7 linked regions of the Homo sapiens genome follow. The protein of the gene in region 1 purifies or fractionates together with the protein of each later gene. This does not show direct contact. Each region holds a gene or a part of one and is shown in the gene's direction. Other genes may lie near its edges. The genes, in order: ALDH3B1, USP32, WDR73, TARS3, IREB2, NUP155 and FMN2.

The links.
Region 2: the proteins of ALDH3B1 (region 1) and USP32 purify together in Homo sapiens (affinity purification with mass spectrometry; 2 studies listed by BioGRID and IntAct, with this or other methods). This does not show direct contact.
Region 3: the proteins of ALDH3B1 (region 1) and WDR73 purify together in Homo sapiens (affinity purification with mass spectrometry; 3 studies listed by BioGRID and IntAct, with this or other methods). This does not show direct contact.
Region 4: the proteins of ALDH3B1 (region 1) and TARS3 purify together in Homo sapiens (affinity purification with mass spectrometry; 2 studies listed by BioGRID and IntAct, with this or other methods). This does not show direct contact.
Region 5: the proteins of ALDH3B1 (region 1) and IREB2 purify together in Homo sapiens (affinity purification with mass spectrometry; 2 studies listed by BioGRID and IntAct, with this or other methods). This does not show direct contact.
Region 6: the proteins of ALDH3B1 (region 1) and NUP155 purify together in Homo sapiens (co-immunoprecipitation; 3 studies listed by BioGRID and IntAct, with this or other methods). This does not show direct contact.
Region 7: the proteins of ALDH3B1 (region 1) and FMN2 purify together in Homo sapiens (affinity purification with mass spectrometry; 2 studies listed by BioGRID and IntAct, with this or other methods). This does not show direct contact.

What each region holds. Positions count from the first base shown.
Region 1 is NC_000011.10:68,019,920-68,024,068, forward strand, and holds part of ALDH3B1 (aldehyde dehydrogenase family 3 member B1), read left to right. Parts: intron 1-1,565; coding exon 1,566-1,952; intron 1,953-2,675; coding exon 2,676-2,842; intron 2,843-4,149. UniProt on the Homo sapiens protein: Oxidizes medium and long chain saturated and unsaturated fatty aldehydes generated in the plasma membrane into non-toxic fatty acids. May have a protective role against the cytotoxicity induced by lipid peroxidation.
Region 2 is NC_000017.11:60,182,520-60,186,668, reverse strand, and holds part of USP32 (ubiquitin carboxyl-terminal hydrolase 32), read left to right. Parts: intron 1-1,017; coding exon 1,018-1,209; intron 1,210-3,215; coding exon 3,216-3,504; intron 3,505-4,149. UniProt on the Homo sapiens protein: Deubiquitinase that can remove conjugated ubiquitin from target proteins, such as RAB7A and LAMTOR1.
Region 3 is NC_000015.10:84,638,645-84,642,043, reverse strand, and holds the end of WDR73 (integrator complex assembly factor WDR73), read left to right. Parts: 3' UTR 1-2,759; downstream 2,760-3,399. UniProt on the Homo sapiens protein: Component of a multiprotein complex required for the assembly of the RNA endonuclease module of the integrator complex. Associates with INTS9 and INTS11 in the cytoplasm, stabilizing the INTS9-INTS11 heterodimer and blocking the active site of INTS11.
Region 4 is NC_000015.10:101,714,278-101,718,426, reverse strand, and holds part of TARS3 (threonine--tRNA ligase 2, cytoplasmic), read left to right. Parts: intron 1-3,463; coding exon 3,464-3,587; intron 3,588-4,149. UniProt on the Homo sapiens protein: Catalyzes the attachment of threonine to tRNA(Thr) in a two-step reaction: threonine is first activated by ATP to form Thr-AMP and then transferred to the acceptor end of tRNA(Thr).
Region 5 is NC_000015.10:78,440,838-78,444,986, forward strand, and holds part of IREB2 (iron-responsive element-binding protein 2), read left to right. Parts: intron 1-4,149. UniProt on the Homo sapiens protein: RNA-binding protein that binds to iron-responsive elements (IRES), which are stem-loop structures found in the 5'-UTR of ferritin, and delta aminolevulinic acid synthase mRNAs, and in the 3'-UTR of transferrin receptor mRNA.
Region 6 is NC_000005.10:37,304,851-37,308,999, reverse strand, and holds part of NUP155 (nuclear pore complex protein Nup155), read left to right. Parts: intron 1-1,567; coding exon 1,568-1,703; intron 1,704-3,789; coding exon 3,790-3,943; intron 3,944-4,149.
Region 7 is NC_000001.11:240,329,270-240,333,418, forward strand, and holds part of FMN2 (formin-2), read left to right. Parts: intron 1-69; coding exon 70-199; intron 200-1,333; coding exon 1,334-1,480; intron 1,481-4,149. UniProt on the Homo sapiens protein: Actin-binding protein that is involved in actin cytoskeleton assembly and reorganization. Acts as an actin nucleation factor and promotes assembly of actin filaments together with SPIRE1 and SPIRE2.

The sequences.
Region 1 (4,149 bases):
GGCTGGGAGCAGTCCTGGACCCCCAGGACCCCTTAGGAAGGGATGGAGTCCCATGTCCAGGGCCAGCCCACTGTGCCAACCACAGCGTCAGGAACCATAGCCTCTGCCCCCACTGTCCCCAGACCCTCATACGTGACCCTGCTGCCCCCCAGGCTCTTAGACACCACCCTACTGGTGCCCACAGCCCTCTCTGCAGGCAGATGAGGGACTGGGCCTCAGTGTCCTGCCCAGGGTCACCCTGCTGGCCAGGATGGGGACAGGCTGGAATGTGCACACAAGCCCTTGGAGAAATCCACGCCAGAGGTCACTTTTTTTTTCTTTTTTTTTGAGACAGAGTCTTGCTCTGTCACCCAGGCAGTGGCACAATCTTGGCACAATCTTGGCTCACTGCAACCTCTGCGCCTCCTGGGTTCAAGTGATGCTCATGCCTCAGCTTCCCAAGTAGCTGGGGTGACAGGCATGTACCACCACGCCCGGCTAATTTTTTGTATTTTTAGTAAAGACAGGGTCTCACTCTGTTGCTCAGGCTGGTCTCGAACTCTTGGCCTCAACCAGTCCTCCTGCCTTGGTCTCCTAAAGTGCAGGGATCACAGGCATGAGCCACCACACCCGGCTTCGAGTTTTTGAGCTAGGGAGGGGCAGAGGGAGCGAGAGGAAGACAGTGGTGCTGGCAGGCGAGTCTGCGCCTTACAGGTCGAGGCAGTCGTGGGGAAGGGCCTGGCAGGATTGACCTGGCCGCCTCCCAGCAAAGGCAAAGGAGCCCTGGAAGGAACCACAGAGCCCAGGAAGCACTGTGCCAGGATGGGGCAGGGGTGAGAGTAGAGAAGGCACAGTGGCTCCTGCCGGCTTTAATCCTTGACCACAAGGGGGAGAAATGCCAGGGCCATCCCCACAGACGCAGCAGCGTGGTCCCCGAGTCAGGTCTGGAGAGGAGGCCTTGAGGCCCAGACAGGGCTAGGGCAGAGAAGGCTGTGTGCATGCGGAGACTGCTGGGCCCCTGGAGGCCAGCACAGAGGAGAGGTGAGGCCAAGCCAGGCAGGACATGGGGACGCCTGCATCAGCCTGGGACAGTCCACCTCAAGGGTCAGAAAAAAAGGGCTGGGCAGGTGGCAGAACTTCCAGGTTTAGGTTTAGAGAAGAGAGACCTGAATGCCGTAGACAGAGCTGGACTCCATCCTTGGGTGATAAGGGATCCCCGAAGTTTCCAAAGGAGATGGGTGGGGAGGGGTTCCATGCAGCATTTTGCAAAGAGTCCCCTGCAGGGTCAGCCAGGGTCACAAGCAGAGGCGGGAGGAGCCAAGGGGTTTGGCTCAGCAGGGGGACCCTGGGGGCCGATAGCAGCCGTGCACCATTCCCTCCTGAGACTCTGTGCTTAGGGGCTGGTCCTGATGAAGGATGAGCAGGGCCCTGGGCTGCAGGGTGGCAGTGAGGAACAAGGAAAGGCCAGGCGAGGGCTGCTGCCCGCTGACTCCACCACCTCTCCAGGGAGGAGCGGGGCCGTGGGCTGGGCCATCCCGCCTGGTCCAGGTCACTGAACGGCCACTCTGGTTTCCTTCCATGCCCAGGGAGCCCTCGTGTGGGCAAGATTGTTATGACTGCTGCCGCCAAGCACCTGACACCTGTCACCCTGGAGCTGGGGGGCAAGAACCCTTGCTACGTGGACGACAACTGCGACCCCCAGACCGTGGCCAACCGCGTGGCCTGGTTCCGCTACTTCAACGCCGGCCAGACCTGCGTGGCCCCCGACTACGTCCTATGCAGCCCTGAGATGCAGGAGAGGCTGCTGCCTGCCCTGCAGAGCACCATCACCCGTTTCTATGGCGACGACCCCCAGAGCTCCCCAAACCTGGGCCGCATCATCAACCAGAAACAGTTCCAGCGGCTGCGGGCATTGCTGGGCTGCGGCCGTGTGGCCATTGGGGGCCAGAGCGATGAGAGCGATCGCTACATCGGTGAGTCCTGCTGCCCCTACCACAGCCCACCTGGGCCAAGACCCCTCCTCACTGGAGGGCCCAAGGCTGGGCCACAACTCTGGACCCGCGCCTGAAACCTGGCCCCACTGCCAGAGCCCGGCCTTGAGCCACAGCTCCAGTGCCATGATTCCGTCTCTGTGCTTCTAAGTCTGTGGCCCTATGAGGCCAAACTCTGGTCCCTCACCTTGGATTCGCTGAGCTCAGATCCCAGGGCTCCAGGGCTCAGCGTGCTAAGATGAACTCCCATCCCACCACTGGCTATCCTGAAAGGCTGTAACCTCAGATTCTCCGAGCCCACAATCCCCAGGTTCTAAACTCCGAGAGTCCCGTCCTGAGCCCCCAGTCTCCTGGGCCGTACGGCTCAGCAGCTCATGGGACACTGCGGCGCCAACATTCTGGGACGCTGTTGCCTCATGAACTCCAAGGGTTCTAAGATCCCATCACCCCTGACTGTGAGACCAAGGTCGGGGGATTCTCTGTGTCCCACAGGCCCTGAGCAGGCTGGGGAAGCTCTAGAGTCCCTTCTGGGGGGCTGTGGGGAGACTTTCTTCCCTAAACACTCCAAAGCCTGAAGCCTTGGGAAGTCAGACCTTGGGATCCTGGCCTAGAGCCCTGGCCTGTGGCCCTGTCCCCACCTCTACCCCCACCCTGGGGGCGGTCCTGACTGTGGCCCCAGGGCTGAGCTGTCTCTGGTGCCTGCAGCCCCCACGGTGCTGGTGGATGTGCAGGAGATGGAGCCTGTGATGCAGGAGGAGATCTTCGGGCCCATCCTGCCCATCGTGAACGTGCAGAGCTTGGACGAGGCCATCGAGTTCATCAACCGGCGGGAGAAGCCCCTGGCCCTGTACGCCTTCTCCAACAGCAGCCAGGTGGGGGTGCGGCCGGGCTGGGCAGGGTCAGGAGCCCGCAGTGGGCAGCACAAGTGGTGGCAGCAGGGGGGGCACCAAAATCCAGTGGCTTCAGGACTTTGGGATGGTGGACCTCTTGGCTCTGTCTCTGCCCACTCTCCTGGAAGCAGCTGAGCCTCACCCACCCCAACCCTGTCCCCAGTCTGGGCCCCACTCTCCTAGGCCTTCAGTGGGCAGCTTCCTGGGGTATGGGCCTTCTCTAGGGTCCAGTGTTTCCTCTAGGTCAGCCCCTGCCTTTGTCCTTCTTACACATCGGGGCCTGGTGGCCACATGACCCCTCAAGCCTGGCTCTGAAGGCACAGGCAACGTGTCGGGGATGACCCAAAGGTGCAGGTCCAAGAATGAGCCCTGATCCCCTACCCCTGCTTAAGCTGCAGAGGCAGCCTGGGAGGCCCAAGGCCAGAGTCCTCAGATTAAAAAACACCAAGAGGTACCAGCAGTCCCTACCCACCCCGCCCCCTTCCCCGGCCCTCAGCCAGTTCCTCGATTCCCTCCACTTGAACTTTTTTTTTTTTTTTTTTGAGACAGAGTCTCACTCTGTCACCCAGGCTGGAGTGCAGTAGCACAGTCTTGGCTCACTGCAACCTCTGCCTCCCGGGTTCAAGCGATTCTCCTGCCTCAACCTCCTGTGTAGCTGGGATTACAGGCGTGTGCCACTATGCCCGGCTAATTCTTTGTATTTTTAGTAGAGATGGGGTTTTGCCACATTGGTCAGGCTAGTCTTGAACTGCTGACCTCAGGTGATCCACCTGCCTCGGCCTCCCAAAGTGCTGGGATTACAGGGATGAGCCACCGTGCCCGGCCACTTGAACTTTTTTTAAATAAACTTTGTATTGGGAAATACTTTTAGATTTACAGAAAAGTTGCCAAAATGGTACAGAGAGTTCCCATGTACCCCACACCTAATTTCCCCCATTTAATGGTGCTTAGATGGGTCAAAACTAAAAAAGTGATGGCAGGGCTGGGCGCGGTGGCTCACACCTGTAATCTCAGCACTTTGGGAGGCCAAGGTGGGAGGATTGCTTGAGCTCATGAGTTTGAGACCAGCGCTGGCAATATAGCAAAACCCCGTCTCTATGAAACATTTTTTTAAGATTAGTTGCGCATAGTGGCGCACACCTGTAATGCCAGCTGCTCGGGAGGCTGAGGTGGAAGGATCTCCTGACCCATAAAAAAAAAAAAAAAGTGACAGCAGTGCTTTACTATTAACTACACTCTAGACTTTATTTGGATTTTGCTGTTTTTCCACTGACATCCTCTTTCGGCCC
Region 2 (4,149 bases), on another chromosome or scaffold:
ACATGCTGATTAACAGGACCCCAAAGGTTTGGGTGAGTATTAGGGGCCTTCTCAGCAAAAGCAGCACACTCTTTTGAGCTTGCTCTTCCTTTTGTTGCCATCTCAGATAAAAAGGCCCCATGAGGGAGGAGACAGATAATTATAGACTTGGTATTCTGATAACTCTGTGTTACATGGAATCAGATGCAAATGAGTTGTACCCTGTGGGGTTTCATGCTCTGCTGTGTTGTCTTCTCATGGTGAGCTTTTCTGTGCCCTTATTTCATCCAGCTCTGGTTTCTGTGTTTCATGTTATTTCTCCTAGCCTCTGTAAAGTCTGCAGCATACTAATAATGCTCTGGCTTTCTGATTAAAAGTAAATGGCTTACTATCAGCACCCCTGGCTTGAGGGCCAGCTCACATGTAATCCCTTATAGGATTCCAAAGTTGTTAAATAAATGCAATTCTTTTTGTTTTTGTCATTTTGAAGCGTTCAAAAATTTTTCAAGAAAAGCTATGGTCATATAAATAGAAATTTTATCCAGAATGTTACCGATGTAACATTTGTGAATAAATATATAGGTGCTGTATTTGCTCAGACTCTAGTTTGGGTTGTGTTTTCTTTTCCCTTTTTTTTGAGACAGGGTCTCTCTCTGTCATCCAGGCTGGAGCGCAGTGGTGTAATCACAGTTCACTGCAACCTCTACCTCCCAGGCTCAAGCAATCCTCCTGAGTAGCTGGGACTACAGACATGTACCACAATGCCCAGCTAATTTTTAGATTTTTCTTTTACAGAGACAGGGTCTCACTCTTTTGACCAGGCTGGTTTCGAACTCCTGGACTCAAGCAATTACCCCACCTCGGCCTCCTAAAGTGCTGGGATTACAGGCATGAGCCACCATACCCAGCCAGTTGTATTTTCTTTTTCCTTATATAGAGTAAAATAAGGGTGAGTGACCAAGAGGTTGATGCATACCTAGATCACCACTTTAAATGCCTTCCCACGCACCCCTTTCCTCCTGTTCCCTCTACCTGCAGGTTGTAGATGAGCATGAGAGTGTGGAGCAGAGTCGGCGAGCGCAAGCCGAGCCCATCAACCTGGACAGCTGTCTCCGTGCTTTCACCAGTGAGGAAGAGCTAGGGGAAAATGAGATGTACTACTGTTCCAAGTGTAAGACCCACTGCTTAGCAACAAAGAAGCTGGATCTCTGGAGGCTTCCACCCATCCTGGTATGTTACAGTCCTGCCTCTGAGAGAGCAGGAATCTGGCATAAAAGAAAGAAGACATGAACAAACAGGAGGTTTTGTTATTTTTGAGAATAAGACCTTTCCTGCAGCAGTGTTTAAAACACTTTCTGTACAAGCTTTTTATGTTGAATACAGAGATGAATCTTTCTACAAATATTTTGTAGTTCTTTTTCCTAAAGAGCTTATAACCTAGAAGATCAATCATGTAGACCAGTAACTGCAATTCAGTGCAATGTGAGAACTGCCACAAGGGGTACAACGTGGTGAATTTGAACTTCAAGAGAGGTTAAACTTCTGGCTCTGTGGAGAGAGGAAGCTTAGGCTAACCCTTTGTGGACTCTAGAAGAGCAACTGAGCCTGGAGCCCCCAACACCCACTGCACATAATCATGTGGCTATGGCACACTACTGAGTTGAGTGTGTGTACACAAGCACACCAGTGCACTAGGGCCTGTGTGTTCTTTTAGATTTAATTTACTTCTGCCTTCTCCCTTCATGGATTAGGAGACTGTCCTGTTGTTTGTCAGGAGAATTTGAAGTGACAAATCTTCCTATTCATTAAGATCAGTGTAACTGTAAGGTACTGGCATATTTTAATTCAGATATTTATATGTTTTTTTTTTTTTTTTTTTTGAGACAGGGTCTCACTGTGTCACCCAGGCTGTAGTGCAGTGGTGTAATCTCAGCTCACCGCAACCTCCACCTCTCGGGCTCAAGTGATTCTCTTGCCTCAGTCTCCTGAGTAGCTGAGATTACAGGCATGCACCACTACCACCCGGCTAATTTTTGTACTTTTAGTAGATATGGGGTTTCACCATGTTGGCCAGGCTAGTCTTGAATTCCTGACCTCAGGTGATCTGCCCACCTTGGCCTCCCAAAGTGCTGGAATTACAGGCGTGAGCCACCGTGCCCAGCCATGTTTTCTTATTCTATTCATGTCTCTGTCATACTACTCTGTGAAGCTGAATGTAGGTTTTTCTTAGACCAGAACAGCTTCCCAGGGAATGATGCACAAGAAATTAATAACATTGGTTGTTAGCTAGCTCCACAGATAGGAACTAGAGGGAAGGGGCAGGCTTGGAGACAAGGTGGGTGGGGAGGAGGGGGAGACTTTTTTTTTTTTTTTTTGAGACGGAGTCTCACTCTGTCGCCCAGGCTGGAGTGCAGTGGCACCATCTCAGTTCACTGCAAGCCTCACCTCCTGGGTTCATGCCATTCTCCTGCCTCAGCCTCCTGAGTAGCTAGGACTACAGGCGCCCACCACCACGCCTGGCTAATTTTTTGTGTGTTTTTTATTTATTTATTTATTTATTTATTTTTAGTAGAGATGAGGTTTCACTGTGTTAGCCAGGATGGTCTCGATCTCCTGACCTCATGAGCCACCCGCCTTGGCCTCCCAAAGCGCGGGGTTTATAGGCGTGAGCCACTGCGCCCGGCTGACGGGTAGACCTTTTAAAAAAAATTGAGGTATAATTAGCATACAATTAAAAGCATAGATTTTTAATATCCAGTTTGATGAATTTTGACAAGTATATATTTTCATATAATCATCACATAAAACAAGCAGAGCAGTCATGTAGACCAGTAACTGCAATTCAGTGTGATGTGAGAACTGCCACAAGGGGTACAATGTGGTGAATTTGAACTTCAGGAGAGGGTGAACTTCTGGCTCTGTGGAGGGTGGAAGCTTAGGCTAAGCCTTTGTGGACTCTAGAAGAGCAACTGAGCCTGGAGGCAGTACCCACTGCGCAGTCACGTGGCTGTGCCACACTGCTGAGTTGAGTGTGTGTGCACAAGCACACCAGTGCACTGGGGCCTATGTAGAGGCCTTTATGAAACCATATTTTTGAAGTCTTTAAAAAATAATGAAGAGTAAATGTTCTGTTATATATTCCCAAACATTCACATGTATTTGACTTGTTTTTTCCATGTAAATTTTGTATCTTCAGAACCCTTTAATGCAGATGTTTTCTACCTTTACTTCTCCAGATTATTCACCTTAAGCGATTTCAATTTGTAAATGGTCGGTGGATAAAATCACAGAAAATTGTCAAATTTCCTCGGGAAAGTTTTGATCCAAGTGCTTTTTTGGTACCAAGAGACCCGGCTCTCTGCCAGCATAAACCACTCACACCCCAGGGGGATGAGCTCTCTGAGCCCAGGATTCTGGCAAGGGAGGTGAAGAAAGTGGATGCGCAGAGTTCGGCTGGGGAAGAGGACGTGCTCCTGAGCAAAAGCCCATCCTCACTCAGCGCTAACATCATCAGCAGCCCGAAAGGTGAGGCCTGGGGGCCTTATGCAGGTGCTTTCTTGGGACTCCTGTAGGCTACATATGTTTCTCTGTCTTCTGTTCTGGAACATCAGGTTGGTTGGGTGGAAAGAACCTATCTGGAATCAGACCTATCTGTATTTGAGCTATGTAAGTTTTAGCAAGAGGTTCAGCCTCCCTGAATCTATTTTCTCATCTGTAAAATGGAGATAATGCCAGGTTTACAGAGTTGAGAGTGACACATGGAGAGTAAAGCACTTCACACAGTGCCTGATATACGGTAAACAGGAATGGTAGCTGCTGTCTTGTCCCCTTATAGCAAAAGTTCTGAGGTTCCCCATCTTTCAGGGGGTCTAGAGGATCAAAACTCTTTTTTTTTTAATTTATTTTATTTTTTATTTTTTTGAGACAGGGTCTCACTCTGTCACCCAGGCTGGAGTGCAGTGGTGCAACACAGATCACAGCTCACTGCAGCCTCTACCTCCTGGGGTCAATCAATCCTCCCACCTCAGCCTCCTGAGTAGCTGGGACTACAGGCATGCACCACTGCACCTGGCTAATTTTTGTATTTTTTGTAGAGATGGTGCTTTGCCATATTTCCCAGGCTGGGCTCGAACTCCTGTGCCCAAGTGAACCTCCTGCTTCAGCCTCTTA
Region 3 (3,399 bases), on another chromosome or scaffold:
GTGAATTCGCTGGTTAAGTGATAATTAACTGCAGTTAAAATTCAGGTCAAGCATGTGGCTCATGTCTGTAATCCCAGTACTTTGGGAGGCTGAGGTGGGAGGATAGCTTGAGTCCAGGAGGAGTTCGAGATCAGCCTGGGCACCATGGTGAACCCCTGTCTCTAAAAAAAAAGAAAGATTTTTATTTAAAAAACCTAAACAAATTCAGATAGGAATTTAAAGATAGACCAGGCACAGTGGCTCACGCCTGTAATCCCAGCACTTTGTGGGGGGCCAAGGTGGGTGGATCACTTGAGGTCAGGAGTTCAAGACCAGCCTGGCCAACATGGTGAAACCCCGTCTCTACTAAAAATATAAAAATTAGAGACGGGCATGGTGGTGGCACACCTGTAATCCCCACTACTCAGGAGGGTGAGGCAGGAGAATTGCTTGAACCTGAGAGGTAGAGGCTGCAGTGAACCGAGATTGTGCCACTGCATTCCAGCCTGGGTGACAGGGTGAGACTCCATCTCAAAAAAAATAAAATAAAGATAAAATCATAAACACTCATAATTCAGTTATACCTTTTTTCAAGTAACTAAAGTTCAAACTTACTTAGGGGAACAGGCTTTCCTGGGTGCCACCTGCTTCTCAAGTCCTGTGCTTTCCACACCACAGAATAGTAAACTGGGTGCACTGAGTGCCTGGTTCCCCTCAGCCCTTAACCAGTGCTGGCTTGTCCGAGTTTAGAATCCCAGGGCTGACTTTGTTGGTGGAATGCTAGCTCCCATTCATTTCCCACCTGCACTGGACGTTTTCTGAATCTCCTTGAAGTCCGGGAGATCTTCATTCCAAAGCTCTTCACTTTTCTGCAGCATTGTGACCCCATCTGGCTGGGGAACTGGAAGTCCTGCTCAGAGAAAAGCAGGAGGGGACATGGAGTTCTGAAATTCACTTTCTGCTCCCATGTCTGGAAGTGACAGGTGAAATGAGAATGATAGTGCCTCTCAAGAAGGTCTAGTTCCCAGAAGAGAAAGTTTAATGACTCATTTTCCCCCTTTTACTCCTTTGAGGGTACAGGATAATGCCCTTATCTATTTTCATAATAATTATAATGATGATGATAATGAAAACTAACGTTTGCCAAGTGCTAATACTGTGTCAGGATCCTCATAACAGCCCAGGGAGGTAGAAACCATCACAATGTCCACTGTCCAGATGAGAAAATGGAGGCTAAGGGTATTTAAAGAGGTTGCCCAAGAACAACAAACCTTTTAAATGGCAGACTGGTGTGTATAATCTACGCAGGGTTCACATCTATGGAACACTTTATTTTAAATTCTTTTAATAATATTATTATTTTTCAGCTGAGTCTGGGTCTCACTCTGTCGCCCAGGCTGGAATGCAGTGGCATGATCACAGCTCACTGCGGCCTCCAACTCCTGGGCTCAAGTGATTCTCCTGCCCCAGCCTCCCGAGTAGCTGGGACTACAGGCTTGCGCCACCATGCCCGGCTTATAGGGCACTTTAGATGGAAACAAATGACTGGATCTTTAACTCCTACCTTTCTCTCCTCTCTTCCTGTAATGTTGTTACTGAAGGCAGGAAGGGAGACTCCTTGGCTAAAGAGCAGAGCAAGAGCCTCAAAGTGGTCTTTGTGAGCCACCCTGGACTACTGGTTCAGTAGAGGGTTGAGTCAAGCAATATTTGAGGACGGGATATAAACAGTATTTCTTAAAGTTGTCACCAATTTTTCCCCCGATGAGGCCATTCCAGACCCAAATTAGTCATAACAGAGCCAGGACAATAATCACATCTCCTGATTCTGAGCCTGAATGCTTCCCACAGGACTGCGTCGCTCCCACTGCTCTGAGGTCCATTGTGGGGGAGAGTTGCCACTGGGATTCCACCTCAAGGCCTGGGGACCAAGCCTCCAGGATTCCTCTTGAGACTCCTCCACTATTTCATTACCATCCCGCCACATCTTCTAGTGCTATGCCCTGGTTCCCTTTGGAATCCTCTCAATCCCAAAGAAGGCCTCCTACCACCTCTAAGGCATCAAAGGTGTTAGAAAGTGCCCCAAGACTCAACAGGGCATCCATCTCATCATAGAAGACACTGGTGCCTGGTGTGTAGGTGCTCCTGGCTTTGCAGTAGTCGGTCAGGAGGTTTTTGAACCGATAGCAACATTGCTCCAGGGTCCACAGGAAGCCATGTTCTCACAGCTGCTCAGCCATAATCCGGTACACCTGGTGGTTTCGATGGCAGGTGCGGAGTTTTTCGTGGATCCAGGCCTCTGAGAATTCCCAGAAAAATCTTGGTTTCTTTGTATCCCCAGTGCACTCCTGCCACCTTCTCATCCTCCAGGGCCTGCCACTCCAGCTCGCTCCAGGTCTTGGCTTTTCTCCAGATTAGCACCTGGCCAGACTTGACTCTCACCCCAGCCACTGAGCAGTCTTTCACACTCTCTTTTTCTCCAGAATTTGAAGATCTAGATGCTGTGGGTTTTCATCCTACTCCACGTGGGAGTTCACTTTGGGCCTATGGATTGGAAAATCTGTTTGCAGGCAGACAAAAGGGAGATGTAATGGTTTGGTAAATCTAATCCCAACCATTTTATATGCCAGGGAGAGGAGATAGTAATTTTTTTTTTTTAATTCTGGGGGGATTCTTGGGAAAGCTCAGTGAAAAGAACAACTAGAAAAAAAAATTCAGGCCCAAATGCATAACTATATATCCACGTTCATCTATCTTAAATAAAATTCAGACACATACCTAAACTGACCATCTCCCTAAAATGAGCTTTCCTTTCTGGGTCAAGAAATTCATCCTTGGTGAAACTGACTATGGTATTGGATTTCCTTTGAGTAAGATTTAAGGAAGAAATAGATTTGAAATATTCAACCCAGGGGGAAAGGGTGGGAGCAGGGGGGTGAGGGATAAAAGACTACACACTGGGTACAGACTGAGGGGATAAAAGACTGCACACTGGGGCCCCGTGGTGGCTCAGGCCTGTAATCCCAGCACTTTGGGAGGCCGAGGCAGGCAGATTACTTAAGGTCAGGAGTTCAAGACCAGCCTGGCCAACATGGTGAAACCCCATCTCTGCCAAAAAAAAAAAAAAAAAATACAAAAATTAGCTGGGCGTGGTGGCACATCTCTGTAATCCCAGCGACTCAGGAGGCTGAGGCAGGAGAATCACTTGAACCCGGGAGGCAGATGTTGCAGTGAGTCAAGATCATACCACTCCACTCCAGCCTGGGTGATAGAATGAGACTCAGTCTCAAAAAAAAAAAAAAGAAAAAAACAAAGACTACACATTGGGTACAGACTTGATGGATAAAAAAGACTACCCTTGGGTGATGGGTGCACCAAAATCTCAGAAATCACCACTGAAGAACTTTTCCATGCAACCAAACA
Region 4 (4,149 bases), on another chromosome or scaffold:
TTTCATCTGAGATAACTCATTCTTGTAGCTTCTTGCTGAAAGCAACAAGAGTTACCCAGGGTATACCAACACTGTCCCCCCACCTCCACCCCGCCCCTTTTCTCGATCTTGGCTCACCACAACCTCCGCCCTCCGGTTTCAAGCGATTCTCCTGCCTCAGCCTCCCGAGTAGTTGAGATTACAGGCATGCGCCACCACACCCAGCTAATTTTGTATTTTTAGTAAGGATGGCGTTTCTCCATGTTAGTCAGGCTGGTCTCGAACTTCCAACCTCAGGTGGTCTGCCCACAGCAGCCTCCCAAAATGTTGGGATTACAGATGTAAGCCACCACGCCCAGCCCTACTCTCCCCTTTTATACCTGCTTTCTTGTGTGCTACAAGCACTGTGACACATGGTTTGCCTGCAAGTTTTATCAAATATTTTGATATACTATCACAAAGGTTATTGGCTCTCCATATGTTAGAATCTGTTTCCTTGTTACTCACTGCCAGTCTGTTAAGCCAGTGCCACTTGTTTTGGATTTTTACTTCCAGGTCCTTATTTCTGTATTACTTAAGATATATACTAAGCTGCTACAACAAAGACATCACAAAAAACTCAAGTCGCTTGAATATGGTCAAAGTCTGTTTTTCATATAGCAGTCTAGACGTGGGTGGCCAGGTTGACTGGGTGACATGTCTCCATACGGTCTTTTGGGGACCCAGATTTCTCCCATCTTGTTGCTGATTTGTCTGGTACAATGTTGCCGTTGTCTACATGGTCCAGAAAGAATAGCACATGGGTTCCCATCTACAGAAGGTGGAGAGAGGTTGGAGAAGTGCCCTCCACTGTTTTAATGATGAGACACAGAAGTGTTACACATGACTTCTCCTTCTATCCATTGGCTCCAAACCTGGCCACATGGCCACATGTAGCTGCAAGGAAGGCTGGAAAACTCCTTCTGGAGAAGAAGGGCAGAATCGGTTTGCGAAACACTAGCCATCTATGACAGCCAGTAAAAATGAAAAGAAAGTTCTACTTGATTAATAACATCTAACATTTATTAAGTTCTTGTTATCATATGTACACATTATGTAATCCTGAGTATAGATGAATGAGGAAGGTCCTATAATCCCTATTTTGTAGATAAGAAAACTGAGGCCTAAAGAAGCTGAGTAAATTGTCCAGTATTTAAACTCAGGTTGGCCTCTTACCTGTGTGCCCCCAACCTCAATGCAGTACTGCTGCTCAAGTTAATCACAGAAATGTAAATTAAAAGATTACATTGTAGGCTGGGCACGGTGGCTCACATCTGTAATGCCAGCACTTTGGGAGGTGAAGGTGGGCAGATCACTTGGGGTCAGGAGTTTGAGACCAGCCTGGCCAACAGGGTGAAACCCTGTCTCTACTACAAATACAAAAAGTAGCCGGACATGGTGGCATGTGCCTGTAATCCCAGCTACTTGGGAGGTTGAGTCAGGAGAATCACTTGAACCCGGAAGGTAGAGGTTGCAGTGAGCCGACATTGCACCTTTGCACTCCAGCCTGGGTGACAGAGTGAGACCCTGTCTCAAAAAAAAAAAAAAAAAAATTACATTGTAGAGTTGATACAATTTAATAGTACCTAACATTATGAGAACTCAGAGACAAGATACTCTTGTAACTCTGCTAGTAGGAAAATTTTGCAATATATTCTGACAGAAATCACTGAAAATGCATTTCCCTTGACCTAGCAGTTGTACTTCCAGAATTTTTCCTGAGAAAATAATTGAGTAAGATATATGTTCAAGAATGTTCATTGCAGCATTGTTTTTTGTTGCTACTCGTCCCCCAAAGTACCCATAAAAAATAATTAAAATGCCTAGCAAATATTGGTTCCTCTGTGACTATTAAATATCACGTTTTGGAAATCTGTCTCCTGTTAGGGAAGATGCTGTGATTTATTGTGAAGTTTAAGAAGTAGGTTATAAAATCACATAATTATGATACTATTAAATATTTTTTATTCCTATATATTAATATGGAAAGATATAAACAAAACATCAATGGTAATTTCTTGGTGGTAGAATTATAGGTGATTTTGTGTGTGTGTTTCTGTGCTTTCCAGGTTTCCTTTCTTAACTTGTAATTTTGTCAACAATTTTCAAACAATAAATGTTATTTAAAAGATACCCAAAAAAACAGAAAGAAAGAGATCAACACCTCACTAGAAGACCATCCTGGCCAATATGGTGAAACCCCATCTCTACTAAAAATACAAAAGTTAGCTGAGTGTGGTGGCCTGCGCCTGTATTCCCAGCTACTCGGGAGGCCGAGGCAGGAGAATCGCTTGAACCCAGAAGGCAGGGGTTGCGGTGAGCCAAGATTGCACCACTGCACTCCAGCCTGGCAACAAAGTGAGACTGTCTCAAAAAAAAAAAGAAAATAGGCAAAGGAAGCGGATAGTTCATAAAAGTAAAAATAGCTTGTAAGCATGAACCAAAACTAATAATTAAATCAAAACAACAATTTTCAATGTCACATTGATAAAGATTTTAAAAATCGGGGTACGTGGAAGTGATGCGTTCAATTGACATCAGAAATCTGTCAACGGTACATCCCCTTTGATCTAGTAATTCCAATTCTGTGGATGTATTCCCAGAAAACAGTCACAGAAGTCGCAAGATGCCTGTGTACAGATGTCTGTGTGATATACTCTATGATAGCAAGACTTAGGCGACCTCAGTGTGCAGCAGTGGAGGCTTCATTAATAAATACAATACTTCCAGACTGCTTTGGAAGGCAATCTGAGGCATGACAGAAAATGCAAGCTATACAATTATGTCGGCAGCTGCTTTTAAAGACAGCACATATGTGTGCGTGGGGTGGATGGAGGTAGAAAAACCACTGGATAGAAATGTACCAAAATGTTATAAGTAGTGATTTATGATATTTATGTGTGATTTTTATTTTATCTTGTGGGCTTTCTCAGTTTTCCAAGTTTTTTTTAAACAGTGAATGTGGCTGGGCGCGGTGGCTCACGCCTGTAATCCCAGCACTTTGGGAGGCCGAGGCGGGCGGATCACGAGGTCAGGAGATCGAGACCATCCCGGCTAAAACGGTGAAACCCCGTCTCTACTAAAAATACAAAAAATTAGCCGCGCGTAGTGGCGGGCGCCTGTAGTCCCAGCTACTTGGGAGGCTGAGGCAGGAGAATGGCGTGAACCCGGGAGGCGGAGCTTGCAGTGAGCCGAGATCCCGCCACTGCACTCCAGCCTGGGCGACAGAGCGAGACTCCGTCTCAAAAAAAAAAAAAAACAGTGAATGTATATTACTTTTCTACATAAAATAAATATTGCAAAACAAGAAATATCTGTCCTATTAGTTTATGTTTGTACTTTTTATACACTTCAAAAAAAAAAAACCCTAGAAATTCTTTTAATATTTTAAGGAATCATTGTAACAGTGATAAAGTTAACTCCCAAGTGGCTTTTGTCTTCTTAGTCAGGAACTGGCTGAAAGCACGGTAATAGCCAAAGTCAATGGTGAACTGTGGGACCTGGACCGCCCATTGGAAGGGGACTCTTCTCTAGAGCTGCTTACATTTGATAATGAGGAAGCTCAAGCTGTGAGTATTTAAAAACCAGACAGCCAAACTTTGGGTAGTTATGTTGTAAACTACATTATATAAGAGGCCACATATTGAAGTCACGAATGTTGAGTTTTTTGGGGGTTTCTAAGATTTAAAATTTGATTATTGATGTTTAATAAATATTTGTGGCATGAATGTATACAAATACATGTCAGTTTTTAAAGTAGCCCATATTTATAATTTCTTTTTTTTTTTTTTTTTTTTTTTTTTGAGATGGAGTCTTACTCTGTCACCCAGACTGGAGTGCAGTGGCGCAATCACGGCTCACTGCAGCCTCAACCTCCCCTGGCTCAGGTGATCCTCCCACCTCAGCCTCCCAGCTACCTGGGACTACAGGTGCACACCACCACACTCAGATAATTTTTCATATTTTTTGTAGAGACAGGGTTTTGCTATGTTGCCCAGGCTGTTCTCAAACTCCTGGGCTCGAGCAGTATGCCTCCCTCAGCCTCCCATAGTGCTAGGATTACAGGTGTGAGCCACTGTGCCCAGCCTTATCATTTCTTACAATAATCATTTCCTTAAGTTAGAATGCTTT
Region 5 (4,149 bases), on another chromosome or scaffold:
CAAACCTTTCTCTGTGGTCTCAGAAGAGTGAATGTGGGCGACCTATAGGGCATTGAATGGAAGTTTTGACTTTACTAACAGTTGAGTAACTTTCTCAATTGGGCCAATAGAGAGACCTCTTTAGAAGACTCATTATTCTTTGTGAACTTTTCCATGACAATGACATGAAAAGATAAATTGAATGCCACATCTGTTGCAGTCAGTTTTGGAAGGAGCTTTAATCTTGTTTTTTCTTGCATTATTTAATTAAGACGATTGTTCTTGTGATTTTTCTGTAGATTTTGAGGAATTTAAATATTCTTGACTGCTATGTGCAATATTTTTTGTGTATTGTGAAATACAGCTATTTTGGAGTATCTTAAAGAATCCCCATTTTAGAATTAGGCTGTCATTTAAAAATAAACAGTTTGCCAAAATGAGAGCAATATCCTTTACCTTGCATGTTTAGCTGCAGTGATTTGTGTTGATACGTTTGTTAAAGGAAGTTGGTCATTTTCTTAATGTATGTCTTTCACATTAATTTTATCCCTTCACTGATGGTGAGTTTGCATTAATTTTGAAAAGAAACAGCTAGATTGATCGTTTACAAGAATAGTCATTTTATTTCCCATTTACTTCTCCAAAATAATCTAGTGATACTGGCTTGGAAGTCTTTTAACCCAAATTTCATAGTTTAATAAATTAAAGGAGCACATAAGATGTTTTGAAAATTGAGTATAAATACTTTCTGTGTATAATCTGTAGAAATGTGCTTACTTGAAGGAAGATGACCTAAATTTCTCAAATTTAAGGAATCAGTAGGAAACTGTCAAAAACAACTGTAAAATGCATTGAAAGGGAATGATTGATAATCTGAAAGTTAAATTTTCCCTGGGAAATAAGTTGTCATGGGAATTTGTACATAACTGTACAGAGTACATGTGTACTTAACATAATTCCAGAATTACCAGTTTTTATAACCATGATAAATGTAATAATAGAATACCTGTGACTATAAATACTTTCAAAACAGAAAGTTGGTTTTTATGTGGGGTCAGTACCCTGGTTTTTATTTTATTTTATTTTATTTTATTTTACTTATTTTTTTGAGACAGGATCTTGCTCTGTCACCCAGGCTGGAGTGCAATGGTGTGATCTCAGCTCACTGCTGCCTCTGCCTCCTGAGTTCAAGCGATTCTCGTGCCTTAACCTCCCAAGTAGCTGGTACTATAGGCGTGCATCACCACACCCAGCTAGTTGTAGAGATGGTGGTTTTACCATGTTGGTCAGGGTGATCTCAAACTCCTGACCTCAAGTGATCCACCCACCTCAGCCTCTCAAAGTGCTGGGATTACAGGAGTGAGCCACTGCGCCCAGCCCCTCCTGCTTTTTTAATAGAGTGCTTATTATGAGAGGTTATTAAGTAATAATTACTTAAGTAATTTCCTAATAAGGAATAAAATTTGAAGAATTGACTTTGAAAGAAAGGAACAAGTTAGGTAGGAAGTATTTGGTTGTTTAACCTTAGAACAAAAAATCCTTATTGCATTTTTGAAAGGATCAGATTGAATTGCCTCCTAGACATATGCTTACAAGAAGACATTGCTTTGGTAGTCACCAAGGTACAGAGCCAGTCTTCTCCACCTCCATTCCACATTTTGATGCCTGCTAGGTTGAGAATGACTGTTGTAATGAGTAACGATTAATGAAGGGAATGGATTCTATCCCTCATAAATGTTACAGAGTAAAGATAGTTGAGAAACACTGTTCTAAGCTCCATGCTGACTATGTCAGGGATGCCTGCAGCTGCAAAGAACTGAAAACTTGCTGTCCAATGACTTTAAGAAATACGAGTTTATTTTTCTAACATAACGAAGTGTGGAGATTGGCAGACTGGGGCTGTGCAGCACCAATCTCCGCAAGGATCTAGGCTCGTCCTTTCTTCCCGTTCTGTTTTTATTCTTTTGGTTGCACCTCCAGGCATTATGTCCAAGTTAAATTTTCCCTGGGAAATAAGCTGTCATGGGAATTTGTACATAACTGTACAGAGTACATGTGTACTTAACATAATTCCAGAATTACCAGTTTTTATAACCATGATAAAAGCCCTCTCCAGGGGCTTTTGCCTCTTTGGCCAAAGTATCAGTGGCCACTCTTAGCTTCAAGAAGGCTGAAAGATGGAATAATCAAGGTCTTCTCTTACTCATGGGGGATATGTTCCAAGACCCTCAGTAGACACCGGAGACTATGGGTACTACCAAACCGTGTATGTACTGTTTGGTATATATTTTTTTCTATACATACATAGCTATGATAAAACTTAATTTATAAATGAGGCACAGTAGAGATTAATAATAACTAATAATAAAATAGAACAGTTATAACAATGTACTGTAATAAAAGTTATGTGAATATGGTCTTTCTCTTTCAAAGTATCTTATTGTGCTGTTCTGCAGGTAACTGAAACCACAGAAAGCCAAACCATAGATAAGATGGGGTACTGTATTTTACCTTTACATCTTTTACAATAGAGAAAGGAAAGGGAGAAGTGGTTGGGAGTGGGTGGTGAGTGAACCAGCCTAATCTATCTGCGTTACCAACCTGATGCCTTCTCTTATTCTGACTTTAGATAGAGTTCAACACAGATTATTTGATTTCTGCTTTTTTACTGCCATTTTATCCTTTTGCTTCCCAAATTTATACTCAGGGTATCTCTATGGAAGTGGGCACATCTTAGACATTGATTACATTTTGATCTTGTATGATTTTGCTTGTGGGGAATCTCCTTTGTTTTTTTATTTTTTGTGGGGTTTTTTTTGTTTTTTGTTTTATTTTGTTTTGTTTTTTTGAGACAGAGGCTCGCTCTGTTACCTAGGCTGGAGTGCAGTGGCATGATCTTGGTTCATTGCCACCTCCATCTCCAGGGTTCAAACGATTCTCGTGCCTCAGCCTCCCAAGTAGCTGGGACTACAGGTGTGTGCCACCACATCCGGCTGATTTTTTATTTTTAGTAGAGATGGAGTTTCGCCATATTAACAAGGCTGGTCTCAAACTCCTGACCTCAAGCAGTCCTCCTGCCTTGGCCTCCCAAAGTGCTGGGATTATAGGCGTGAACCACTGCACGCAGCCAGTTGTGGGGAATCTCTTTAATATTCTGGAGCTGGCTGTCTGGCACTCCCAATGTGCTGACTAGAAACATGTCAAAATCTAGGTAGTCTCAAAATGTAGATTTTGAGTAACTCTTTAAAAAAAAAAATTATAAAGATGGAGTTTTACTGTCAACCTGGCTGGAGTGCTCTGACATGATGATAGCTCACTGGAGCCTTGAACTCCTGAGCTCAGGAGATCCTCCCACCTCACCCTCTCAAGTAGCTGATTTGGGTGACTCTCTTAAGTAGATCTCTGAATTTGAAACTATTGCTATTTTTAAGGAGTGGAGAAATCAGTGGTGTCTCCATGTATGATGGAGGACAGTTAACATCAGAGAATTAGAATGAACAGCATAATGGAAACATGAATGACTATGTTGAATGAAGGGGAAGATGGTGGAGAGACTGGCCTGGCTGGAGTGAAAGGTAGTTTTGAGAGAGTACCTGTTACTGGGCAACAGGGCCTCTGGTGGTGTAAAGCCCCCAGGCACCCTTTATCTCAGGTCATCTTATTCACCCTTTCTTTTGTCCTTCCTGTCTGCTTGCCTTTTTAACCACAGTACTGCTTAGTCCTCCAGTAGAGCCGGGACTTAGTGTCCAAATCCTACCTTGCAGCCTTTGGAAGAAAATCCTGTATTTAATTTTTTAGGAGAGTTTTTATCATTTAGAAGAATCACAAAAAGACAAGAACATTGCAGATGGTACAGAAAGTCTCATTTTTATGTGTATACAAAAATATATGTAAATATGCTACTTTTAATAAAAATAAAGTATATGTTGTTTTGTAACCCTTTTTTTCACTTAATATATCATGAACATCTTTCCATGTCATTGAATACAGGTATCCCTTGCTATCTGAATCTACTTGGTTTCTGAGTCAGGGAGCTTGAGTTCAGGTAGAAAGGGATACCTGTACTTCTCTGTGGCTTCTAATAGCTGCACAATATTGCCTGTATGAATGCATTGTGGTTTAGTTAACAGACCTTTGAATATTGAGGCTGATAGTAACTTTTCTCTATTT
Region 6 (4,149 bases), on another chromosome or scaffold:
TGAAAGGACGTAGGAATGTGGTATCATTGTGTTGCAATATTTGATGACTACACTGACCTGCAGAAGCTGTAATGTTCTTTCTATTTTTTGAAATGTACTTTTTTTTTTTTTTTTTTTTTTTTTTGAGAGTCTCGCTCTGTCAGCCAGGCTGGAGTGCAGTGGCACGATCTCAGCTCACTGCATCCTCTGCCTCCCAGGTTCCAGCAATTCTCCTGCCTCAGCCTCCCGGGTAGCTGGTATTACAGGCGCACGCCACCACGCCCAGCTAATTTTTTATTTTTTTATTTTTTTATTTTTTTTATTTTGAGACAGAGTCTTGCTCTGTCACCCAGGCTGAAGTGCAGTGGTGCGATCTCAGCTCACTGCAAGCTCTGCCTCCCAGGTTCACGCCATTCTGCCTCAGCCTCCCAAGTAGCTGGGACTACAGGCGCCTGCCACCATGCCCGGCTAATTTTTTTGTATTTTTAGTAGAGATGGGTTTCACCATGTTAGCCAGGATGGTCTCAATCTCCTGACCTCATGATCCACCCACCTCAGCCTCCCAAAGCGCTGGGATTACAGGTGTGAGCCACCGCGCCCGGCCATTGCCCAGCTAATTTTTGTATTTTTAGTAGAGGTGGGGTTTTACCATGTTAGCCAGGGTGGTCTCGATCTCCTGACCTCAGGTGATCCACCCATCTCAGCCTCTCAAAGTGCTAGGATTACAGACATGAGCCACTGCGCCCAGCCGAAATGTATAACTTTTTAGCATTAGAGTTTCAGTTCTTGTCCAGTTCAATTACTGTATGTTTTACATTGCTTTCTGGATTACATTTATTTTTCAGATATTTAAAATTTTTTATTGAGTTTTAAGGTATAATCTGCTTACTTTTTAAAAAATTACTTTAAATCAAATCTAACATAATGTAAAGGCCATAACTATTTGCACAGGTATTATTTTGAATCCCAAGGTATTTTTTTCCCCCCAGTAGGGAACTAAAACTTTCCTTTTTGTTATTTGAAATAGGATCTTTTTTTTCCAATGAAGAAATATATATATATATATATTTTTTTTTTTCCTTTTTCTTTTTTTTTTTGTGAGACAGAGTCTTGTTCTGTCACCCAGGCTGGAGTGCAATGGTGCAATCTCAGCTCACTACAACCTCTGCCTCGCTAGTTCAAGTGATTCTCCTGCCTCAGCCTTTTGAGTAGCTGGGATTACAGGCGCATGCCACCAGGCCCAGCTAATTTTTGTATTTTTAGTAGAGGTGGGGTTTCACCATGTTGGTCAGGCTGGTCTCGAACCCCTGACCTTGTGATCTGCCCCCTCTCAGCCTCCCAAAGTGCTGGGATTACAGGCGTGAGCCACCACACCTGGCCCCCAATGAAGAAATATATTTAACAGTTGCCTTTTAGGCATATTAAGACCTTTTCCTTCTGAAGACCTATCAGAAATATTTTATGTTAGCAGGGTGACTATTGTACAGTAGAGACATAACCTTGATCATTATTTTCATGTGCCAGCTAAGGAAAAATGTATCCAACTTAGTAGTAAGTCATAGGTCTTCATTCTTTTCTTTCCCATCAGTGAGATTTTATGAGGGTGTGGTGGAACTTTCTCTTACGGCTGCAGAGAAAAAAGATCCTCAAGGTCTTGGGCTTCATTTCTATAAACATGGAGAACCAGAAGAAGACATAGTTGGACTTCAGGCCTTCCAAGAAAGGTGCATTCCATTACGTTAGCAGATTGTCATCTTTATGGATACAGACTTTTCTTTGCATAATGTTTTTTGTTTTTTGTTTTATGTTTTTTTTTTTTTTTTGAGACAGAGTCTTGCTCTGTCACCTGGGCTGGAGTGCAGTCGTGTGATCTTGGCTCACTGCAATCTCTGCCTCCCAGGTTCAAGCTATTCTCGTGCCTCAGCCTCCCATGTAGCTGGGATTACAGGTGCACACCACCACGCCTGGCTAATTTTTGTATTTTTAGTAGAGACAGGGTTTCACCATTTTGGCCAGGCTGGTCTTGAATTCCTAACCTCAAGTGATCCACCCACCTCAGTCTTGCAAAGTGCTAGGATTATAGCCATCAGCCACCGTGTCTGGCCTCTTTGTGTAAAGGTCGACCACCCAAAGTGCTGGGATTACAGGCATGAGCCACCATGTCCAGTAGGATTTCATTTTAAAGGATAATTTTTAAGTATTCCCAAATTTGTTGAGACTGTTAAAAAGGAAATGTGTGTCCTTAAAAGAAATATAGGCCAGGCACAGTGGCTCACGCCTGTAATCCCAGCACTTTGGGAGGCTGAGGTGGGCAGATCATGAGGTCAGGAGTTCGAGACCAGCCTGGCCATCATAGTGAAACCCTGTCTCTACTAAAATACAAAAATTAGCCAGGCGTGGTGGTGCACACCCGTAATCCCAGCAACTTGGGAGGCTGAGGCAGGAGAATTGCTTTAACCCGGGAGGCAGAGGCTGCAGTGAGCTGAGATTGCACCACAGAACTCCAGCCTGGGCGTCAGAGCAGGGCTCCGTCTCGGAACAAAGAAGAAATATATAACCTTTCTATAACATATATATATGGAGGGTGTTTTGTTTTGTTTTTGTTTTTGTTTTTGAGACAAAGCTTCACTCTGTCTCCTGGGCTGGAGTCAGTGGCACCATCATAGCTCACTGTACTCTTGACCTTTTGGGCTCAAGTGATCCAGTGATCCTCCTACCTCAGCCTCCTGAGTAGCTGGGACTACAGGCACATGTCACCACACTCGGCTAATTTTTTTTTTCTCTTTAATTTCTGTAGAGACAGGGCCTCACTATATTGCCCAGGCTGGTCTTTAACTCCTGGGCTCAAGCAATCCTTTCTTCTCAGCCTCCCAAAGTGCTGAGATTAGAGGTGTCAGCCACCACATCTGGCGAAAACATATTTTTTTATTACTATATTTAATGACTTTACCCTTTTAATGTTTAACCAAACACTTCTCAAACTTATTGAAAAAGTATATGGTTTGTATTATTTTAAATGCCAAATATGTACATCTATTCTGCCAAATAGTCTTGAAATCCTTGTATATACTTAGGTAAGGTAAATCAATGGCTTTCTTTTTTGTTATTTGTTTTGTTTTGTTTTTGGGGGGTTTTGTTTTTTGTTTTTGAGACAGGGCCTCATTCTGTTGCCTGAGCTGGAGTGCAGTGGCATGATAATAGCTCACTTGCAGCCTTGAATTCCTAGGCTCAAGCGATCCTCCTGCCTCTGCCTCCCAAGTAGCTGGGATTACAGGTGCACACCGCCACGCCTGGTTAATTTTTTGTTTCGTTTTGTTTTGTTTTTTGTTCGTTTGTTTTTTGAGACAGGGTCTTGCTGTCACCCAGGATGGAGTGCAGTGGCATGATCTCAGCTCACCTCAACCTCTGCCTCCCAGGTTCAAGCAATTCTTGTGCCTCACTCACCTGAATAGCTGGCACTACAGGCATGCACCACCAAGCCCGGCTAATTTTTGTATTTTTGTCAGATACGGGGTTTCACCAGGTTGGCCAGGCTGGTCTCAAATTCGTGACCTCTGGCAGTCCCCCTGCCTTCGTCTCCCAGAGTGCTGGGATTACAGGTGTGAGGCACTGTGCCCAGCCAATTTTTTTGTATTTTTTGTAGAGACGTGGTCCCGCTCTGTTGCCCTGGCTAGTCTTGAACTCCCAGCCTCAAGCCGTCCTCCTACCTTGACTTCCCTATGGCTGGCATTACAGGCGTGAGTCACCACACTTACCATCATTTGCTTTCTAGTTAAATAATGTAATTGTTCCTTTTCCATTTTCTTTCAGATTAAACAGTTACAAATGCATTACAGACACACTTCAAGAACTGGTAAATCAAAGTAAGGCCGCTCCTCAGTCTCCCAGTGTACCCAAAAAACCTGGTCCTCCAGTGTTGTCATCTGATCCAAATATGCTGAGTAATGAAGAAGCAGGACATCATGTAAGGGACATAGTATATTTTCATTCTGAGAATACACTGTTTAGAAGTTCTCCATGGTAATGGTAGCACAGTCATCTTGGGGAAAGGTGGTAGTTCTTAGAAGTTATCATGTAAGGATTCTTGATTTCTTACTGGAGTTTATAGGGCTAAAGGGTTGTGATGCCCAGAAACAGAGCCTTTAACTGCTAATTTTTACTATTTTCTTT
Region 7 (4,149 bases), on another chromosome or scaffold:
ATGAGATGAGGATAAACATCTGTTTATGTGAATTATATTTTTCTTCTTAACTTGGCTTTATTTCCTTAGGTTCCTTTATGAACTGTCACTAATCCCCAACTTTTCAGAGCGAGTCTTTTGCATCCTGTTCCAGTCCACATTTTCAGAAAGCATTTGCTCAATTCGTCGCAAACTGGAATTACTACAGAAATTGTGTGAGGTGAGTTCTGGTCCAAAGAGAGCTGAACTTGAGTCTCATTTAATTGTGCTCAGCCATGTTCTTATTTCAGAAAAGCATTCTTTTATTTACTCTAAGTACTCACCAAATTTGAAGGATCGCAGTCCCACAGAAGGGAACATTTTATGATTGACCTTCAAGATCAAAGTAAATGTTCCGGCGGGCGCCCAGGGCTACAGGACCACATTGCTAGAATGTGGCCAATACATGTTGGCCTCCAGAGATTTCTCTGCCCTCTCCTTTTGCCAAAACAAAATCTTCAGTTTTCACGGTCCTCTCAGACATCAGACTTCCAAAGGAATGTAATTTGAAGGCTTTTTTTTTTACTTTCTTTCGTTATCTGGAAGGACCTCTCCACAAACTGTTAATAATTATTCCAGCCAAATAATTTAGGAACAGCCATATGACTCAACAGAAGACAAATATTCTTCCGAAAACAAAAAATAAATGCTTGGCAGAAACGACCAATGTTAACATTTAAAACAATTTGTCAAATATCAGTAATACCATTTGTTCTAGTTGCGGTAAATCATTTTGAAAAGTGAAAAGATGTTTTTAAAGGCTCACATTTTCAGAAGAAGTGACATGCAAAGTCAAGTTAAACACAGTGTTTTGAAAGAAATGAGTGTGAGCTCTTTGGGGGTAAACCTAAATTTAGAAATTAATCTCTGAATCTGCTTTTTGGTTTCCTCTGCTGATGCCAAACATTGGTATTGTTCCAGACGTAGGCACCATTAAGACAATGGCAGTGATATTAGTGATGTTATTTTGTAATAGTTCTCATTTGGCCTTATCTAATAGTTATCATATAGCCTTTGTTCCCATATAGCCTTAATAGTTCTCACACAGGCTTGTTTTCCTTGCAGTTACATCACAGAAATGGCCTAACATAGCATCCCCCAGCTTACAAAGGCATACCTGAATGTTTGTGGGTGGTGCAACTTTTACTAACTTTCAGGATACTGCTCTTAAAATATACCTAATAATTAGGAATGATAAAGTTCGGTTGTGACCCAAAACTCCTAATATAATATAAATAGCTGGCATCAACTCGATGATTCAAACAAAACCTGGTATAAGATAAAAGTTGTTTTTTGTTGTTATTCTGTTTTACAGACATTAAAAAATGGCCCAGGGGTTATGCAGGTTCTAGGTTTGGTTCTTGCCTTTGGCAACTACATGAATGGAGGAAATAAGACTCGAGGACAGGCAGATGGCTTTGGATTAGACATTCTTCCAAAACTGAAAGATGTCAAGAGCAGTGTAAGTATTTTGCATGAGTGGACGTAAGCACATTGAGGAGTCAAGGTTTTGTTTAGTAATGGGTTTGAATGTAAAGCAGTTGTAAAAAATATTTATGTTCCTAGGTCAAATGCTTCTTTATGTTCTGAGCTAGAAAAAAGTAATGTCCATCAGATATTTGTGATTTTGTGATTAATGTTTCCTAAAGTGAATAATTTTCATTCTTATGTCTAATGTATAATTACAACTTTTTAATATAAAAACAATACAAAATAACTTTTTATATTGTTTTAATATAAAACAATAATTTCTTTTACCATATCTTTCCCATGTCTGCTAATATTTATCCTTTTGGAATCTGAAGGCTAATTATTTTCTATGAATTAGACAGTATATCTTTTTTTCTTTGTCATGTTAAGCAATGAAGGCCAATAGGTCCATATTTTGAAAATAACACAATGATGAGTAAAATGGCTTGTAAACAAAATATAAAAGGTGATTCTACTCTGCTGCATATGATTTTCTCCTTGATACTGGTGTGTAGGGGGATGTCTAAGCTCTCTTGCAGACCTAATCATTTTTTGGTACTACTTCTGCAGTTGTGTTTGTTTGAAATTAATGTCTAAGCAATTGTGAGAGTGCCAGTAGAAATATGAGGTTAGGAATGATGGTTAGAGTCACAGACTCAAGTCTGAGACGGTAAACTTAAAAAATAAAAGAGTTACATTTCTCTGATAAAAAAATCATCACACAAAAAAGTAGGATAAAGGAAATTCTGGACATGTTTTTGAAATATTAAGTTTAATAATTGGCTTGTAGAAATAAAAATATGTAGGACTGTCCTTCCTAGATAATGAAATAATTTCCTTCATGGGGGAGAGAGAGACTTTTAAAAATCTTTTCTGCCAGCCAACAATTTGTTTATTGTTTTATATACAGATGCTTCTCAACATAAAATGGAGTTATGGCCTGATAAACCCATCCTAAGTTGAAAATACCATAAGTGAAAAGTCATTCAATACATCTAACCTAGTAAACATCAAAGCTTAGCCTAGCCTGCCTCAAACATGCTCAGAACACTTACCTCAGCCTACAGTTGGGCAAATCATCTAACACAAAGCCTATTTTATAATAAAGTGCTGAATATCTCATGTAATTTATTGAATACTGTGCTGCAAGTGAAAAACAGAATGGTTGTATGGGTACTCGCAGTACAGTTTCTACTGAATGCGTATCACTTTTGTACCATTGTAAAGTCAAAAAATTGTAAGATGAAGCATCGGGAGTCGGAGACTGTGTCTCTGTGTACGTGTGTGTGTGTTGTCAAATTAATACAGATATTCATGCAATATTCTTTCATTGAGCATCTATGGAATGTGGACACTGCTCTTCCAAAATCGAATAATTCATAGTCCTTCCTTGGTACACCAGCAGCATATGATTTTTTTATTTTTATAATTGTTCAAATGCTCATGTGTATGATACACATTTTCATAGAAGTATCTACTATAGAGAGCTGATAAATTACATTTGTTAAAAAAAAAATGCTGAAGCCGAGTGCAATAGCATGAGCCCGTAATCCCAGCTACTTGGGAGGACTTTTCAAGGCCAACCTGGGCAATACAGTGAGAGCCCTTCTCAAAAAAAAAAAGAAAGAAAAGCCCTTTTCTTAACCTATGGTAATTCTTCAATACTCAGCAACTGCTTGTTGGAGTGAAACAACTTTTGCAAATAACATTGAAATCTATAGCATCAATATCATATTTAAATTATAGAAATGAACTGGAAATAGATTCTAGTGATCATATATAAATAAGAGATTATTTGTGGGACTTTTTTGGTATCAGTTTATATATCTTATTCAATCCTCTGTTAGGTTAAATTTCATTAATTTAAATAATCAAGAGGTAATCTAAAATAAAAATTTAAATATGTAATCAAGAAATACGTTTTTAAAATAGTTTCACTTGTACTCAGAAGAGCTATACAAAGTCTTCCTGAATTGGTTCTTTCTCTGTAAAACAAATGTAACTATATTTATTCCTTAGTACTATTTATAGACCTCCATGGACAGAGCTGTTACTTTGATCACTTAGAATTTTCTCTCAGCATGCCTAGTTTTGTTAATTGATTCAGGTGCTGCCAACCGTTTCATTGAATTACAAGTTGGGAGAGAGAAAGGAAGTCAAGTTGCTTAAATCATTTTACAAGCAAATCCTGTCTAATGAGGGATATCTCTAATAGCTACATTACTGACTCATGTCAAACTTGATTATAAAGAGGTTTTGCTCTTTTTACAAATATAGAAAAAATCGTGGTTATATTAAACATTCCAGAGAATGTAGTTTGTATCATAGGGTTTGTTTTTAAAGTAAAATATATACTTGAGCTCTCAAATTCAGATTATCTACTACTACTTTGGAACAATACAAAAAAAGAGTAAAATAAAAATTAATGCGCCTAAATAAACCAGAAAGGAGGTGAAAAGGTATTTTTGAAGTGTGTTAGATATGAAACAATTTTACCTTTTTTTAAATAGAAATATCCACATTGTCTTATTTATAACCACATGAGTGTTAACTCCTCAAATCTCAATTGCTGATATAACAAATTATAATATTGGAATTGTTAAAAGCTCCCCTTTACTTAGTATTGGAATGGTTAAAAGCTCCGCTTTACTTAAAATGATA